2 linked regions of the Homo sapiens genome follow. The protein of the gene in region 2 interacts with the protein of the main gene of each other region in a pairwise test. Each region holds a gene or a part of one and is shown on either strand. Other genes may lie near its edges.

Evidence for each region. Proteins that work in one complex are often made in the same cells at the same time.
Region 1: the proteins of DNAJB6 (region 2) and KIAA0825 interact in binary tests that used the Homo sapiens proteins (3 or more experiments, as listed by UniProt).

The regions. Positions count from the first base shown.
Region 1 is NC_000005.10:94,616,802-94,620,547, forward strand, and holds the start of KIAA0825 (uncharacterized protein KIAA0825), read right to left. Parts: upstream 1,804-3,746; 5' UTR 1,699-1,803; intron 1,518-1,698; exon of another isoform or gene 1,430-1,517; intron 1,325-1,429; exon of another isoform or gene 1,091-1,324; intron 1-1,090.
Region 2 is NC_000007.14:157,413,078-157,416,823, reverse strand, and holds part of DNAJB6 (dnaJ homolog subfamily B member 6), read right to left. Parts: exon of another isoform or gene 2,137-3,746; intron 809-2,136; coding exon 726-808; 3' UTR 1-725. UniProt on the Homo sapiens protein: Has a stimulatory effect on the ATPase activity of HSP70 in a dose-dependent and time-dependent manner and hence acts as a co-chaperone of HSP70. Plays an indispensable role in the organization of KRT8/KRT18 filaments.

The DNA of each region.
Region 1 (3,746 bases), on a different chromosome or scaffold from region 2:
CCTTAAGTCCCTTTTATCCTCAAGTTTTGCTATCCACTTGATTTCTAAATGTGACATACTATCTATCCATTTTTACCTGGAGTGAAAATAATGATACTGTTATGTTTACTTATAAAGGTATAGAGCACAGTAAAAAGAGCCAAAATTTAGAGTCAGGTAGACTGGATTCAAATTTTAATTGTGCCATTTAATTGTATAATTTATGGAAAATCACAACCTCTTTGGGTCTCAGTATAAAATGTTTTGCAAAATAGAAATAATACAATTTTTGTGATTTTCTTTTTTTATTAAACATTAAATAAAATAATAAATGTAAAGTGCCTGGCAGACAGTATCTACTTGGGGTAAGTATTAATGATTGGCTACATTCAAGAGCAATTCAAAGAGAGAAATCACTGCCTCTAAAAACTAGTTGCTGTACAGATATAATACATAATATCCCTGAAGTAATTTATAATACTTTCAACTGGAGAAATAAAGAAAAAATACAAGATTCAACAAAATGTCAAGATTGGGATTAATGGGGCGATTATAAGTTTGTTGAATTATTAACCAACAAGGCCAGAAAATCAATGTGCTGTCCTAAATATGGTTTGTTGCATTACTCTCAAAAGGTTAAGAAGACACTGGCCTGGTGTTAACAGGGGCCTTGAATTGAACATATTGCATTTTTCTTTATCGGTATGCTCCGATAAAGAAAATGTTTTTATGGGTATGAGGAGCATACCCATAAAAAAAATGCAATAGTACCTACAACTCTTTCGGGAACTGACTGTTTTGAAAAAATAACAGTCAGCTGCCTTTTACGGGGGTTGGTGGGGAGGTAATTATCTAAATATAAGGTGGCAAGTGAAAACTAGTTACCTAAGAAATTGCATTACTTAAGAGAAGTCGCCAAGGTTCACTACATCACATCTTTCAAATCTTAAATGAGCACCTTTCCTCACATTATCCCTTTGTCGGAAGCAATTTCTCTTTACAACTATTCTGGCTACCTCAGACCTCCATCCAAAATTCTCCTGAATCCTTCATTATCGACAAAGCCTGGAGCAGAACGCAAGCATTCCTTTCTGAAAGCACACATACTTACTGATCACTGCTTTCCAAAAATGCATCTAATGCCCAAGCATGAAATTACAAGCTTGTTCTCTTATGTCTCAGCCATGAAAACAAAGACCGTTCTTCTCATCCAATTCAAATGGCGGGAGGAACCTTCAATTAATTCTAAATCAGGAAGGAACCTCCCCATCTCACTTCCTAAATGTTTGTAAAAGATGTCTTCTTCAGCCAACCTCCTGCCTTCCAGGCACGGCACCCCAGAACTACGGAAACAGTACTCAGGAATCAAGAGTGGCCAAACGCTGCCAATGGGAGATAGGAAACTCGTTGATCATTGGTAGAGAAACTCGGCACAACGCCGAGTCACGGTACACGGTGTCTTCGGCCTCGCCCAGGGACACTTGGTGACCCGAGGTCGAGTTCCAAGTCGGAGACAGATTTTGCGAGTGGATAAGACGGTAAGCCGGGATCCCAGGGCCTTCTCCAGCTGCACTGGGTGTCAAGCGCCACGGGGTTTGATGGGGACTCCTTCTGGTTCCACCCTCGCCCACTCACTTCTCGGGCTGGCCATAATGCTGCACAGAGCCCCGGCCAGCCATTAATATCAGGCGCAGGAGAAAACCCAGTAAAATCACTTACCAGTCTTCCACCTCCGGTGCTGATCTAGCAAGAGCCTGACCCGCTGGCCAGACTCAAGCTCTGCACCAGGTATTACCACCCTGGCGACGGCTCCGGAGCGTCACTGACAACCACCCGGAAATGGTACTATCGCTTCCGGGGCTGCCTAGCGCGCGGCGGGAAATTGTTTCCCAGAGCCCGGATTCGTGAAGCAGTTGAGTGCTGCAGCGGCAGTCGTCGCCCCTGCCGCCGCTGCCACCGAAGGAAGCATCCCAGACACCGGGAAGGTAAAGGGGCTCAGCTAGGAAGACACAGTGTATTCTGTCTCTGTGGGGATGTTTCTTCGCCGGGCGGTACCTCCGAAGTTTCTGCCTCCCGGCTGTGAGGCTAGGAAGGAAGCGGCTGGGGTGAGCGGCAGCGGTGTCTGGCTCTCGCGCTTTCTCCAGCTGCAGTTCGTTCCAGCTCTCCCGACTTCGCGCTCGGCGCCGGAGTTGGTGGGCTGCAGCTGCAGACCCCGCGACGCTTCGCCCGTGCCGCTGCGGGGACTGCCACCGAGCGCCCCTCTGCAGTACTGGGCTGAGCCACTTCCCCCGCTTCTGCTTGCGCAGCTCTGCCGCTCGGCCCGCCGCCTGGAAGGCGCTAGGCCCCCCGCGTCTCTCGTTTCCATAGAACCCATGGGGACGCCTCATCCTGATACCAGAATTTTGGCTGCTTTCCATAACTTAGCGTCTGCGAAGGTGGCTGGGATACCCCAGGCCCACTTTCCTGTGACGAAGAAAATTGTGTCATTCTTTCCTCTCTAGTAGAATTTTTTTTTTTTAAACTGCTAAAACGGCAGTGATCCTATCTCTGACTGCTATAGGCCTTTAAACACAAACATACACACATACACTTTTCGCTGAAGGGAGGGTCTGTGTTCCTGGGGTTTATATTTCAGCTGCCTGAAGGCTGGAAACAAGACTGAGTGGCTATTTTAAGATTTCTTCCACTTCCAAAGCCTCAGATTAAATATTGACAAAAAAAAAATTGGTCCGTCTCGGGTACTTCATATCATTATTTGACTCAGGAGTTAGATGGAGCTTGATTTTGGAGGCGCCAGCCTCTTTTTTGACGAATGACTTTATTAAAAAATTTTGTTGTTGTTGTTGAAATATTGGGAATGAACATTTGAACTGAATTTACAATGTATGTGTGACAGACAATGCACCTTGTGGACTTTTTGGTTTATGTTATTCCGTTGTGCCTCAATTCTTGGAAATACCTGTGGATGTGCAAGATGTTCTCATTATTGGAAAGTTTGATTACGTATATTGCAGGTGTTCAATACCTAAGTTGCTAGTATGAGGTGAATTTATATTAAAGAGTATATTTCTTTATTTTCTTTTCTTACCTTTCCTTCCTTCCTTTGCTTTCTTTCTTTCTTTGACAGAGCCTTGCTCTGTTGCCCAGGCTGGAGTGCAGTGCCTATCGGCTCACTGCAACCTCCGGCTCCCAGGTTCAAGCAATTCTCCTATCTCAGCCTCCCGAGTAGCTGGGATTACAGGTGCGCGACACCACGCCCGACTAATGTTTTGTATTTTTAATAGAGACAGGGTTTCACCATGCTGTCCAGGCTGGTCTCGAACTCCTGATCTCAAGTGTTCCGCTCGCCTCGGCCTCCCAAAGTGCTGGGATTACAGGCGTGAGCCACCGGGTAACTCTTGAGTATTCTTAATTTAAAGGAACTAGGATGTTCAAATACTTGAATGTTTAAGTCAATTTTATTGTAAAGACAGCGAACCTTCAGTACTGCAAATAAACCCCTATTCTGTTTTCTAAATCCAGATTTTATTATGCGTTATTAAGTAAAATTGAATTATATAACCTAACATTTTCTTGCTTCCCTAAAGCATAAAGCGTGGATCACGTGAAAGTCATTGAAAAGATGATCAAATGTGGTTACTTTTCATAATCAAAATTCAGAACTGAAGATTTCGTAATAAGCATCCACATTTTCCACTGATGTTCAAAAACATTGCGTTTTGGGAAACCAATAGTATAGCTTTTATTTATTAGTACTTTCCTTATTA
Region 2 (3,746 bases):
GGCCCTAACCCATGGACACTAGGGAGAGTGCCACTGAGCAAAAATTTTTTGCTAAAAATAATTAGCAAAAATCCAAGAAAAAAATATGGAATCTAGCAAAACCTACACCATATTTGAAGTTGAATTTGCACTACCTGCAAAGGATGAAAATTAAAAGAGTAAACAGAAGGAATGATTTTACATCTGATGTGATTCACGACAGCCTTCTATTCGTGTGGCCGGATTGCTCTGAGGAAAAGGTGCCCTGACGGGCAGGATTCAATGTGTCACTTGCAATATTCTCTAAGTTACACTCTACTGAATTACCTTCTAATTCCAAACACTACGCCGCCACAGAAAGCCTCATTTCATGAATGTTACTCAGTTAGCCATCTGCGCCCTCCTGTACTTCTAAAGCCAGAAATATTCCAGCAGCATGCGGAGTGGTTGAGTAGCCGAAAAGAATGAAGAGGATCCGGAAGCACTAGAGGAAAATGCAGCAGATTGAGAGCTGGAGAGAAGCAGAGAGTCGCGGCCAAGTCCCAAACGTCTGTCCCCGCCACCCGTGCCGTCAGCCCCGTCTCCTGACCCTGCTCTGACTGATCCGTGATCGCATAATCCTGCCGAGCGAGTGTGGCCTCGAGACAGTCCTGACCGACGCTGCTACCTAGCGCGTGTGCACGACCGCATGCCGAGCACGGTGGAGCGCCAGCGTCTGGGGGTGCACCGCGTGCCTCAAGTCCGGTCTAGTGATTGCCTTTGGTCGACTTCTTCTTCTTCGACTCCTCTCTCTGCTTCTGCTTCTTCCTCTTGCCACCTTCTTTCAATCCTAAGGAAACACGGCTTGTAAAACACTGTACGGAACAGCACTGCTTCCCCAGCAAGAGCCAAACATGTTTTCTAAATATCTCCCCATGTTAAGAACAAAAAGCAACAAAATGAAGTCATCTATCTTGGCCACAGCTAAACCTCAAAACGGGCGCTTTCCAAGGTGCACGTTGAGAACTGCTCACACTACCCAGAGAGCTTCACCACCCTGCAGAGAAGTGAGGACTCCCACCTACCCGAGTTCCGCCCAGCGGCAGAGCTAAAAGCCCACCCTGGGACTACCCCAGTTCTGCCCAGCGGCAGAGCTAGAAGCCCACCCTGGGCACGGCTGCACCTCAGTCCTGGAACCCCACCCTGGGACCTACCCCAGTTCCGCCCAGCGGCAGAGCTAGAAGCCCACCCTGGACACGGCTGCACCTCAGTCCCGGAACCCCACCCTGGGCTCTCCTTCAGAACGCACACTGGGCCTGCGCAAAGGTGTGCCCACCTGTGGGGAGGGTGTCCACAGGTGTCTCCTCCGCTTCCCCCGCTGGCCACAGTGCAGCCTTTCTGCAGGCAAAGCCTTGGTGTGGACTGGCCTCATGTTTGCCAGCTCTGTGCCATCCAGCGTGAGAAAGTCCCATTTCTTATTGAGGAAAGTCTTTCATTTCCCTGTTGCTAAAGTCAATGGCTGACACTGACTGATCCAGCTGAAGTGCATGGAGAAAGACGCCCACCCTCTGAACGTCTGATCCAACGTGCCAGAAATAAACACCTCTGGATTCATTTCTGCAGAAACTGTCTTGAACTCAGTGTGTGCCAACGTGGGTGCAGGAAACAGGCCCGATGTTGAATTTGGCCACAATTGTCAACATGACTGGGCAGAGGGAACATGGCCGGCAGCAGGCAGGGCAGGCCTGGGTCCCACACGCACAGGCCCTCAACCTGCCAGAACTCTCCAAAGACCCACACAACTTCACATGGTGGCATCGTGCCTCACAGGAAGGTGCCTGCTCACAGCCCTCTTGGGGGCCTGAGGCCCTGCCCACACTCAGGACTCGCCCCAGAGAATCACAATCATGGTAGGCCGGGTGCCAGGCTCCAATCAGATGCATTCCACACCCAGCTGACGGCCGCCACGCTGACCAACATGTCACAGGTGCAAGTCCACTGAGTGTGGCTCACACATGTCCTGGACCACAGTGGGGCAAACACATGTGGACTTTCAAATGTGCTGTGGCTCTCACCACTGAGCACTGCCTGGACCCCGACAGCTCTCCACGAGAGAGGGACAAGCCTGCAGATCCAGTCCACACCCCACCCACAACCACACCACACCACACTCGCCTGTGACCCGTGCACAGTGGAGGCTGCCACCTTCCTCGCCAGAGGAGCGCGTCCTAACCGCCCTACAGGAGCAGCACGAGATGCGCGTTCAGAACCGCCAAGCGTTCCATGCTGCATATTTAGGAAATGTGCCTCAAGCTACGGTTACGGAAAGAAAGAACGAACAGAGAGAGGCCTGTGTGCCGTTGGCGGCTGCAGAGGCCGCTGAGTACCTGCTTCCAAAGCAGGGAGGCGGCTCTGCGGAAAACGCAGAGGAAAGGAAGCGGGAGGAAGCCAGGAGATCTCCGTCCCGAGGAGCATGCGGGGAGCCGCCGTGACTGTGGAGGGCGGCCAGGGCAGAGCCAGCTCTTGGAGGCCGTGTCCCTCAGAGGAGCCTCGTGCCCCGGGACCCAAGGGACCCCGTGGGATGGGGGCGGGGTGGGGGGGTCAGCACCGCCTGCGGTTCCTCCGCTTCAGCAAAGCAAACTTTACCAAGACCCCAGAACAAAGGGAGTAACGGAGCTCCTTTAAAGCAACTGCTGCCACTGGGCCTTTATGAGCTAGGGACGGAAAGCCTGAGGTGACCACACTGCAGTCGCCCTCACCCGCCCTGGGGCTGCCGGGATGGTGGGGGAGGGGCGGGTCCGGTACAAGGAAACCACTTTCCGGTGTTCTTCAAGCCTCCACTATTGCCGGGCGCGGTGGCTCCCGCCTGTAATCCCAGCACTTTGGGAGGCTGAAGCGGGGGGATCACCTGAGGTCAGGAGTTCGAGAGCAGCCAGTCCAACATGGAGAAACCACATCTCTACTAAAAATACAAAAATGAGCCAGAAGTGGTGGCAAGCACCTGTAGTTCCGGCCACTGGGGAGGTGAGGCAGGAAAATCGCTGGAACCCTTGAGGCAGAGGTTGCAGTGAGCCGAGATCACGCCACTGCACTCCAGCCTGGGCGACAGAGCGAGACTGTCTCAAAAAAAAAAAAAAAAAAAAAAAAGTCCAAAATTGAAGTGAGAAAAACAGAGCAGGCCTTCCTGTCACCTGAACCTCCTGCAAATCACAGACATGGCCTTGGGCACCGGCTCGCGGGCTCTGGGACTTCGTGGGACCGCCAGCCTTGGGCACAGTCCACAGAGGCACGCTCTCCCACCAGTGACTACTTAAAAACTTGTCCTGATAGAAAACGACTTAAGTTTTCTTATCAAGTTTAAGGACTTGAAAACCCTTAAGTATAAATACACAAATTAGTTTCATTAAAAAGACAAACTTCGAGCTGTTGAAAGCTGAGGGCAGGGTTAGATTCCCATCTTCAGTTCCGAGAGCTCCATGCTGTGCTTCACAAAAAGGGAGACATTCTACAGCGTTCCAGGGCAGGCTGCTTTCCTCAGCCAAAAAAACAAAGGACCTGCTTTATTCTTTCTTTCCTGTTCAGTAATTTTACTTTTCCTTTTTTAACAGTTACGTGTTCTTGATACTCCTACAGTATGTGTGGAATTCACAAACACAAAACATCACTCGGCCTTTCCAAAGCCTGAGTGAGGATCCGGTGGGTTCCCGGTGGTGCCTCTGTCCTCTGAACGCAGGCAGGGCGAGCGCTGGGTTTGAGGACTCCACACAGCAGCAAATGCCAGCCACGGG